Homo sapiens: one gene and its partners. The protein of the gene in region 1 purifies or fractionates together with the protein of each later gene. This does not show direct contact. Each region holds a gene or a part of one and is shown in the gene's direction. Other genes may lie near its edges.

What was found. Proteins that work in one complex are often made in the same cells at the same time.
Region 2: the proteins of STK31 (region 1) and FAM114A2 purify together in Homo sapiens (affinity purification with mass spectrometry; one large-scale study listed by BioGRID and IntAct). This does not show direct contact.
Region 3: the proteins of STK31 (region 1) and HIGD1A purify together in Homo sapiens (affinity purification with mass spectrometry; one large-scale study listed by BioGRID and IntAct). This does not show direct contact.

What each region holds. Positions count from the first base shown.
Region 1 is NC_000007.14:23,716,719-23,720,218, forward strand, and holds part of STK31 (serine/threonine-protein kinase 31), read left to right. Parts: intron 1-762; coding exon 763-861; intron 862-3,500.
Region 2 is NC_000005.10:154,004,411-154,007,910, reverse strand, and holds part of FAM114A2 (protein FAM114A2), read left to right. Parts: intron 1-3,500.
Region 3 is NC_000003.12:42,790,991-42,794,490, reverse strand, and holds part of HIGD1A (HIG1 domain family member 1A, mitochondrial), read left to right. Parts: intron 1-191; exon of another isoform or gene 192-215; coding exon of another isoform or gene 216-237; coding exon 238-334; intron 335-3,500. UniProt on the Homo sapiens protein: Proposed subunit of cytochrome c oxidase (COX, complex IV), which is the terminal component of the mitochondrial respiratory chain that catalyzes the reduction of oxygen to water. May play a role in the assembly of respiratory supercomplexes.

The sequences.
Region 1 (3,500 bases):
TTGGCCATTGGGACAAAGTTCACCAAAGAATACAGATTGGTACTTGTCCTTAAACGTCTCCTATTCTTTTTTTGAGCACTTTTTTTTTTTTTTTTTTCAAGACAGGGTCTCCGTCACCAAGGCTAGAGTGCAGTAGTGTGCTCATGGCTCATTGCAGTCTCGAACTTCTGGGCTCAAGCAATCCTCCCACCTCATCTTCCTGTGTAGTTGGAACTATAGGTGCACACTACCATGCCCGGCTAATCTTTTGTATTATTTTTGTAGAGACAGGATTTCACCACATTGCCAAGCTAGTCTCAAACTCCTGGGCTCAAAAATGATCCTCCCACCTCGGCCCTCCAAAGTGATGGGATTACAGGTGTGAGCCATCGCAACCTGCTTTTTTTTTTTTTTTTTTTTTTTTTTTTAGCATTTCTTTACTTTCTGGCACCATCAAATGTCCCAGGATCATCTTTTATTTCCCAGTTTGAGCTCTGCAATCAAATCAATCTTTAAGGAATCCTTTCCATATGATTTAATTATATTTGGTATCTTGTTTGAATTCTACCTAATTTGAACACATTGGGAAGTAAACTTTTTCTATGGCCTAGTCTCATTTCTTATAAATAACTCATTTAAATTATGAAAAAATACAGGCATAAGAAGTTGATTTAATTTCTAATGGCCTAAAATCTTTTAAGTTTATCATGCTTAGAACCCTCAAGCGTGTAACACTGTAAAATAATATTTTACTGTATCTTATACTATATCTAATCTTTCTAGAGTATCAATAGAAATAAGGATATCATGAAGATTGGTTGCTCACTGTCTGAAGTTTGCCCCCAGGCCAGTTCAGTTTTGGGGAATCTTGACCCAAACAAGGTGAGCCATATTCTTGAATATAATTATTTCATTCCTCCTGTCAGCTTTCCTGTGTCTTAGATATTTAGTTTTTGGAGTTCCTGGTATATTTGAAAAGAAGAGGCTGATTTTTGGAATTTGTATAAACTACTGTTATGGTATATTTATTAATTCAAAAATACTTATGGACTGAATATTACTCAGTCTTGAAATTTGACGTAAGCTACAACATGGATGAATCTTCAGGACATTAGCTAAATAAGCCAGTCACAAGAGGACAAATACTGTTATGGTTCTACTTGTATGAAGTACTTAGAGTAGTCAAAATCATAGAGACAGAAAAAGTGAGTGATGGTTATCAGGGACTGGGGGAAGATTGAGGATGAGGAGTTATTGATTAATGGGTGTAGAGTTTCAGTTTTACAACATGAAAAGAGCTATGGAGATGGATGATGAATGGTGGCGAAGGTTGCAGAACAGTATGAATGTACTTAATGCCACTGAACTGTATACTTAACAATGGTCAAGATAGTCAATTTTATGTTATGTATAGTTTACTACAGTTAAAAATAGGAAAAGTAGAATTAAAAGCTACACTATTCTAGCCAAAAAAACAAAAGTGAAGAAAACGTATGTACTGTCTGCCATGTACCTGGCACTGTATTAAGCATTAAGTAAGTATGCAGTGGTGAACAAACTAGATTCCTTGCATTTGACTTTGATTCACAAAAAATTTGTAAGATGCATCTTTATGCAGAGCAATTTGGCTTTTTTCTTTTTTACTGAGTTATAACTTGTATACAGTAAGGTATATATCTCTTAAGATCCTAAGTATATAGCTTGGTGAGTTTTTACGTGTGTATGTATCCATGTAACCACCATCCAGATCAACATATGGTTCTATCATTTCAGAAAATTCCTTCGGGCCCCTTCTCAGTCAATTCTTAGTCAGTAGTTTCTCCATCAGAGGTATAACCCTCATTTTGATACTATCACCATAGATTCGTATGTCTGTTCTTAAATCATGGAGTATGTAGTTTATTGTATGTATCTGGCTTCTTTTGTTCAACATAATTTCTGAGATTCATTTATATTGTTGTGTGTATTAGTGTATTGGTAGTCTGTTCTTTTTTAAGCTATTTAACATTCATTGTATAAATATAACACAATTTATCGATCTGTTCTCCTTTGATGGGCATTTGGATTTTTTGCAGTTTTTAACTACTCTGAATGAAACTGCCGTGAAATCCTTATATAAGTCTTCTGCTGGATGTATTGACTCATTTCTTTTGCACATATATCTAGAGTAGAATTGCTAAATTGTAGGGTAGACATGTTTCTGCCAAAGTAGATACTGCCAAACAGCTTTGCAAAAGTGTTGAACCAATTTACATTCTTATCAGCAATTTATGAGAGTTATAGTTCCTCGATATCCTCACCAGCCCCCTGCTTTGCTAGTGTACTGAGGTTGTGTTTTAATATTTTTATTAGCCCTTTGGAAGGGGTCTTGTGAAGTACCTATTCACATCTTTTCCCCATTTTTAAATTAGGTTATTTGTCTTGATTGATTTGTAGGCATTCTGTATGTTTTTTTCACTTTAATTTTCATTTTTGTTTCTACCTCTTAAAGTCAATGATAAAGTCACAACTGTAAAATGAATGCATTTAAAAAATAAAAGATATATTTCAATGACAAAAAGTATGCAATGATCATGAAAATCTACTGTACACTTTGCCAAGGCCAAAGAATGAAAGACAATATGAAAAAGCCAATCTTCAAATATATCCTCAACAAAAACTCCCTCCTAAATAGTAAAATTATCATTTAAGAATATTTGTCTTTACACATCTAAACAGAAGCTCTAACCAAAAAAAAAGTGGGGGAAAGGGCAGATGATAACTCTCCACAAGTTTTCCAGATATAAACATGTGGTCACCAGGAATTCAAGATTAAACTTCTAAAGCAACATTTAACTCAAAATAAAGTGAACATTTCTGACAGGTGACAACAGTAGTATGAAACTGATTTTTCCTTTCCTAAATAGAAATGAGATGGGGCATTTCAGTAATCATCTAAGAATAACTGTAGAAATACTCCCAATTCTACCACCCCACCCACTGGTATAAAACAGATACCTTCCATGAAAGTATCTTTCACATTACTGAAATATCCTCACTTACTTGGGACAATTTCATGCTTAGATGAGTATAAACACTTGTTTTTAGGTGTGTGGAATTATTGGAGCTGAGATTTTTGAAACAATATCTGAATCTTAGCAGAGATATAATAATACTTTCACTATACATTGATTGGGCTTCCTTAACCAAATCTGAGCAACTACTGTAATAACAATGCTGGTGGTAGTCCATGATACTCTCAAATTTTTTCCCTTTAAGAAATATATAATCCATGTAATACTAGTAAATATGTTACATTGTACACCTTCTTAACAAAGAATGTCTGTTTTCAGGCCTTACTAGGAAAACAAACAAACAATGGCAGTTACTGCCTGTTTTTATCACTGATAAGCTACAATAAAGCTCAAATGATGGATGGTTTACGTGTGTGATATTAAGTACAAAATGAAAGCCATTATAATTTTACCAAAAGAAACACGAAAAATATGGGAAGAAGTGAAATGAACATGGCATGGGTCCCA
Region 2 (3,500 bases), on another chromosome or scaffold:
ATTTTTTTCTATCTGTGAGGTGAGTTGTAATAATGTAGAGTTCCTGTGAGGTTTAAATGTGTTCACACACATAGCTCTTACAAAGGGCCTGGCTCATAGTAAATAAATGCTCACTGTTGATGGCTCCACAGAAGACAGCCCGATGTCCTCTACATGTAGCTGTTCAATAAATATACATATGTGTTCAATAAACCTTTATTATGCTTAGTAATTTGCTAGGTGCTAGGGAAATAATCATGAAAAAGACATAGTTTACATGCTTAATGAGAGATCACATTAATACGTATTTTTGTAAGGCCAGTAACTCCTTATCTGTCTGGCAGTTCTCGCCATTCTCTGAAAGCAATCTTCAGATTGTTTAAATTTTAGGCATTGAGACTTAAGATGTAGATTGGTTAAGGATCAAGGCCTTAACCATTGGCCCTCAAAAGATTTATATGGCAGGCTGTGATGTAGGGGAAAGAGCACTGAATTAGGAGTCCGGGAATATGATTCTGTGATTCTGATTCTTGTTCTAATACTCACATGTGGTGTGGCCTGGGGCAAATTCATTTTCTTCTGTGGGCCTCATTATTTTTCTGTTGGAAATAAATAAGCTTTTGGAGAAGCCAAGTTCAAAGGTACCTATTGAGATCTGCAGATCTCAACAAGTGGGAAGTTCCAGACTGAAATGTGGTCGTGGATGACATTAATTATTTTGGGAAAGGATAATAAATTACCTTGAGTTGGCACAATAGTTCATGATGATTTCACTTAATATATTTATTACAAGAGAGGTCACTTTGGGTATGCTCTATGCCTACTAAAATATCTCCTGGCCAGGCGCGGTGGCTCACGCCTGTAATCCCAGCACTTTGGGAGGCCAAGGTGGGTAGATCATGAAGTCAGGAGTTCAAGACCAACCTGGCCAAGATGGTGAAACTCCGTCTGTATTAAAACTACAAAAATTAGTCAGGCGCAGTGGCAGGTGCCTGTAATCCCAGCTACTCGGGAGGCTGAGGCAGGAGAATAGCTTGAACCAGTGTGGCAGAGGTTGCAGTGAGCTGAGATCATGCCACTGCACTCCAGCTTGGGCGACAGAGTGAGACTCCATCTCAAAAAAAAAAAAAAAAAATCTCCTTTGGGTATATTAAATTTATGGTATCCGTTTTTTCTTTTATGTGGTCTATCACTCTCCATTTTTCTTTTTTAATCTCTGATAAATTAATCCTTCATTTTTTTACTCAATTTGTCTCTTCAAAGATATTGCAAAGAATTTAACATATTGTTTGTATTATTAGTCAACTGTTATGATTCTTTCCAGCCTCATCTCTCAGTGTTCTCTTCTGTAAACCTCACTACTCCAACCTAATTTTCTGTCACACTCCTCATCCTCTATATTCTTCCTTACTGGCCTTTATTCTGTTTCTCAGGTGTACCAAGCTGATTTCCCTGTGCTTACAACTCTCTTTGCCTAACTATTTGTATGGCCAATTCCTTCAGATTTCAGCTGAAACATAACTTTTCAGAGACCCTTCCTGACCACCCAAACTCAAGCCACCTTCTACCCATACCCACCGTTACTCCATTTTATTTTCTTTATGTATGTTTTTGTTTGTTTGCTTGCTAATTGCCTTATTAGGAGAGAGAAGAGCAGACTCCTAGTTTGTATTATTCACCATTGAATCCCCAGCACTGGCACAGTGTTAGTATATATTTGCAATAAATGAATGAGTAAAATGCCAGTATCCTATATTTTGGTCTTGCTAGATATCTCACTGTTTGCCTACACACTTTGCATTTTTCTGTTTCCAAGCCTTTATATAGTTCATGCTGTTTGGTGTTTTGAATTTGAGAGGTTAATGCTTAAGTAATGGGAAGGTATAGATCAGAGCTAGATTGTTCCTGAATGTTTTTGTGGGAGGATATAGGGAAAGAACCCTACAGTGAAATTCTGGGAACACAGGTCTGCTTTAGCTCATTCGGGTAGCCTTGGGTGTAGCCCCACTTGCTGATCCTTCAAGGCCTAACTCCAGTACTGTATGTGTAATAAAACCTGTTTTCTCAGTTAGAATGACTCTCAAAGTCTTCTCTGGATTCCTATTACCTCATGACAGCTTTGAACACATTCTGTGTATGTAAAGTTAATAAACTAGGTGGTAATAAACAGTTTCTGAGAAACCAGGACTCTTTCACTTGCAAATGACAGAAACTCAAGTTAAGAAACTTAAAAAATAACAGAAACTAATTTAAAAGAGGGGAATTCAGTAGCTCAAGAAAATAGAAAATCAAGGAGCAGAACTGGCTTCAGGCATGGCTCTATTCAGGAACCTATCTCTATCCCTATCTGTGTCTTTCGGCTTGCTTCCTTTTTGTTTTGGCTTCATTCTTAGGGAAGCTTTTCCATATGGTGGTAAAATGACCATTGGCAGCTTCAGGGTGGGTGACTTTTTTCCATTTCGGTAACTCTTACTGAAAGAACACTTCTTTTTGCTGATAATTTTACCAGATGTCCTGAGACTGATGTCCATTGATCTGGCTTGGGTTACTTTTTAATCTATGCACCACTTACTCTGTGGACAGGGGTATTAGTATTCTCAGTAGCTAAATCTGAATGGTTTGCCAACTTTTGGAGCCAAAAGATGGAAGCAGCTGCACCCAGGTCACATGAACTAAGGAGAATCTAGAACCTGCCACCAAAAGAAAGGAGATATGGGTGCTGGTCATATCCATATCCAAAACAGTAGATGTTCTTCACAGTGTGCTGGACACTGGGTGTGCAAAGCCAAATAAAACACTCTCTAGCTATCCTATAATACATAGTTTAGTTAGGAAACAGATAATTCTACTATATTTGGTTAAGTTCTGAATTTAAGTTACCTGAAAGAGATGATGTCTGGGTAGAGGATTGAAAGAACAAGTACAGTAGAGGTCATTCTTACCAGAAGATAAAGTGGAAAATGATAAGAGATGAGGCTGGAAAAGTAGGTAGGGTCTAGGTCATGGAGACCTGTTACATCATGTAAAGAGCATGATCTAGTTGATGAGGAGCCATTGAAGGAAAGAGGAATGGTCAGCCCTGGGCTTAAGACAGATCACTGGTAGCATTTTGGAAGATAGATTTAAGATAAACAGATCAGAAGCAGAGAGACCAGTCATGAAGTGGATCTGAACTCAAGTAGTGGTAATAGGGAGGAGGAAGACGGGAAGAGGATGATGAGGGGCTTGGATAAAATCAGACCATCTTGGTGATTGGTTGGAGAGGAAAAAAATCTAAGATGGCCCCTATATTTTGGCTCAGGTAACTGGTACCTGGTGGCACCTCTAAAACTTTGGGAAATAAAAGAGGTTGAAAAATTTGGGGTAAGAAGAGAAAGACAATGAGTTCAAAGTTTTTATTTGTTGTATGTGTGATGCCTGCAGAGTATTTTGTCTAGCAGACATTTGGAATAAGTTTTCAGGAGAGGTCAGGTCTAGAAATAAGGATCTAAGAGTCAACAGCAGGTTGAGGATAGTTGAAA
Region 3 (3,500 bases), on another chromosome or scaffold:
CAAAATAATAGGGGGAATAAGTGTATACAACTCTCCCTTGAGAGTGACTGTACATTAAAAATACAGTTAATTTCTAAAAATATTTTTTAACTTTAGGATTATGGATAACATATACTAAGATTCTCATGGAAGTTAGGAATATTTTAAATACATCCAGATATTTAATAATGTTCAGATGCTTTTAATTACAGAACCTCATAGAAATTCTTTCTCAGGGAGATTCTTCAAGCAATCACTATGTCAACAGACACAGGTGTTTCCCTTCCTTCATATGAGGAAGATCAGGGATCAAAACTCATTCGAAAAGCTAAAGAGGCACCATTCGTACCCGTTGGTAAGTTTGACTGACATTTTAGTAGTCTTGAATATGGTAGAGCCGTGATAATTTGTTCATTTAGCAATATCCTGAAAGAATGTATTTTCCATTTTTTTCTTATGTTGAAATATGCTGAGATTGGCATGATATAAATCTCATCATAAAGATTCTTCTGTATGTATTCAGACTTTTTTTTTCTTTTTGGAGACAGGGTCTCTTTCACCTAGACTGAAGTGCAGTGGCTTGATCATAGCTCACTGCCCCCATCCCTCGACCTCTCAGGTTCTTGATCCTCCCACCTCAGCCTCCTAAGTAGCTGGGACCACAGGTGTGCACCACCACGCCCAGCGAATTTTTGTAGTTTTGTATAGACACGGGGTTTTGCGATACTGCCTAGGCTAGTCTTGAACTCCTGGGCTCAAGCAATCCGCCTGCCCTCAGCCTAGTGCTAGGATTATAGGCGTGAGCTGCCACTCCAGCTGAGACTTCTTATTTTATTGAGTCTTATTTCAGTGCATAATGTTGTATTGGGGGACCCCAAGACCATCCTCAGGTTAGATGATTGGGCCAAGACTCATAAGACTCAAAAATGCTTGTTACAGTCATAGTTTATTACAGCAATGGGATATAGGTTAAAGTCAACAAAGACATATAGAATGAAGTGTAGGATAAACCAGACACAAAATTCTAGGTGTCCCCTTCCCAGGGAGTCCCACAGGGGGAGAGGGGGTGCATTTAATTCTTCAGTACTGATGTGATATGTGGCAATACATGCTAAGTCTTGCCATCTAGGGAAGCCCACCAAGCCTTGGTAACCAGGTTTTATTGAGGTGTCAGCTGTGACTGAAATTAGCTATTCAGTCTCCTATCCCCCAGAGGTCGGACTCGCAGGCATATTAAAATTCATTTAATATGCAGTTAAAACAGATGAAAGGTGAAATTTATAGTATATAAATTAATCTTAAGAAAAAGTTTAAAAATTTTTAATCTTACAGAGAATTTTAAAATTACCTTTAATGCCACCATTTAGATATAACTGTTGTTACCATTTTGATGTACATATTTCTCCAGTTGTTTTTTCTTTTTTTATCTTCACAAATTCAGGATCATACTAAGATGCATATATGTATTATAATTTTTATCTCATGTTTTTAACTATGTTATTCGAAACTCGACTTTTTTTTTTTTTTCCGAGAAGGAGTTTCACTCTTGTTGCCCAGGCTGGAGTGCAGTGGCGCGATATCGGCTCACTGCAACCTCCACCTCTTGGGTTCAAGCGATTCTTCTGCCTCAGCCTCCTGAGTAGCTAGAATTATAGGTGCCCGCCGCCACGCCAGCTAATTTCTTTGTATTTTTAGTAGAGATGGGGGTTTCATCATGTTGGCCAGGCTGGTCTCGAACTCCTGATCTCAGGTGATCCACCTGCCTCGGCCTCCCAAAGTGCTGGGATTACAGGTGTGAGCCACCGTGCCTGGCCTAAAACTCTACTTTTTTTTTTTTTGAAACGGAGTCTTGCTCTGTCGCCCAGGCTGGAGTGCAGTGGCAGGATCTTGGCTCACTGCAAGCTCCGCCTCCCGAGTTCACGCCATTCTCCTGCCTCAGCCTCCCGAGTAGCTGGGACTACAGGTGCTCGCCACCACGCCTGGCTAATTTTTTCTATCTTTTAGTAGAGACAGGGTTTCACCGTGTTAGCCAGGATGATCTCGATCTCCTGATCTTGTGATCCGCCCGCCTCGGCCTCCCAAAGTGCTGGAATTATAGGCGTGAGCCACCGCGCCCGGCCAAAACTCCACTTTTAAGAATGACTTAATTTATATGATATAAATTACTGTTGTATATAACATTATTATAATCCTCTTGGTAGAAATTTATGTGATTTCTAATTTTTCATTATTAACAATTAAACTACTGAGCATCCTTTTAGATGGCTCTCCAAGAAGTTAAAGGACTTTGAAGTCTCTTGAAGGAATTTTTCTTCTGACCATATAATTAATAAGTTAGTTGCAAAAGTACATAAAACAGAAAGGTACCATGTCCTATGATCCCGACTCTGAAAGACAACAGCAGTCTGCACAGTCTGTCAGTGTTTTCTTCTCTGTGTACTACCATAAACTATTATTTATAATTATTTTTAGATGAAATATTTTTCTTTAGCCTTGTTCATTATCTTTTTATAACAATGCATATAGGAACATTTATATTTTTAATAATTGAATCATTAATTTTGTAGATATACAATGTTTTGTAACAGTGATCTATAAAATTTTTTGGTTGTATATTCCCTCAGTAAAAAATAATTTGAGCACGTACTTCCTGCCAGTGTGTTGTGTGTTTACCTATTTTTAAGTCATTTATGACTTTTAAGTCATTTAAGTCATTATGAAATACGCAGAAAGACATTTCAAAAGGATAAGATACAAATATAAAATTTTCTGCTCTTTAATGGGTTGTCATTTATACATATCCCTTCTTGGGAGTACATAAACCCTACATTGATTTAACCATTGCTGTATTGACGACATAGGAGTTGTTCCCATTATGTTGATTTTACAAACTGTTGGAAGACTGTGTGTGTAAAAATTAAATATCCTTATATACTTAATTGTACCAAAACAATGATTTACACCAATAGGCTGTGATGGGCTGGTTTTCCCATACTCTCAGTAGCACTAGATATTATCATTCTTTGAGCATCTTTTCATATGTATTGGTCATTCAGGCTTCTCTTCTGTGAATTAGCTTTTTTGTTTTTGCTTTTGTTTCTGTTTTAACTAGGATGTCTTTTTCTAATTAAATTATAATTATGTATTTTAGGTATTAATGTTTTCTTAATATGTTGCAAGGCCTTCATGATCCTGGGATTACTTAGGTTCCTGTATTTCCTTATGTTGTGCATTTATCATTGAGATACTAATCTATCTGGAATTTATTTGTAGGTATGACATGAGGCAAAATCTAACTTATTTTCCGTATGGATACTTTAATTTTCTATCACAGTGATTTGGGTATCTGTTTTGCATTCTTTTTCCACTTATTTGAAATGTGAACTATGTCATATACTAAACATATGAGAGATTTGTTACTCAACTACTGTATGTATTTTGTTGCTTTGATCTGTCTGCCAGAAACTTAGTGGTATGTTTAGATACCTCATAAGCCAGTACACTTTCACTATTCTACCTTC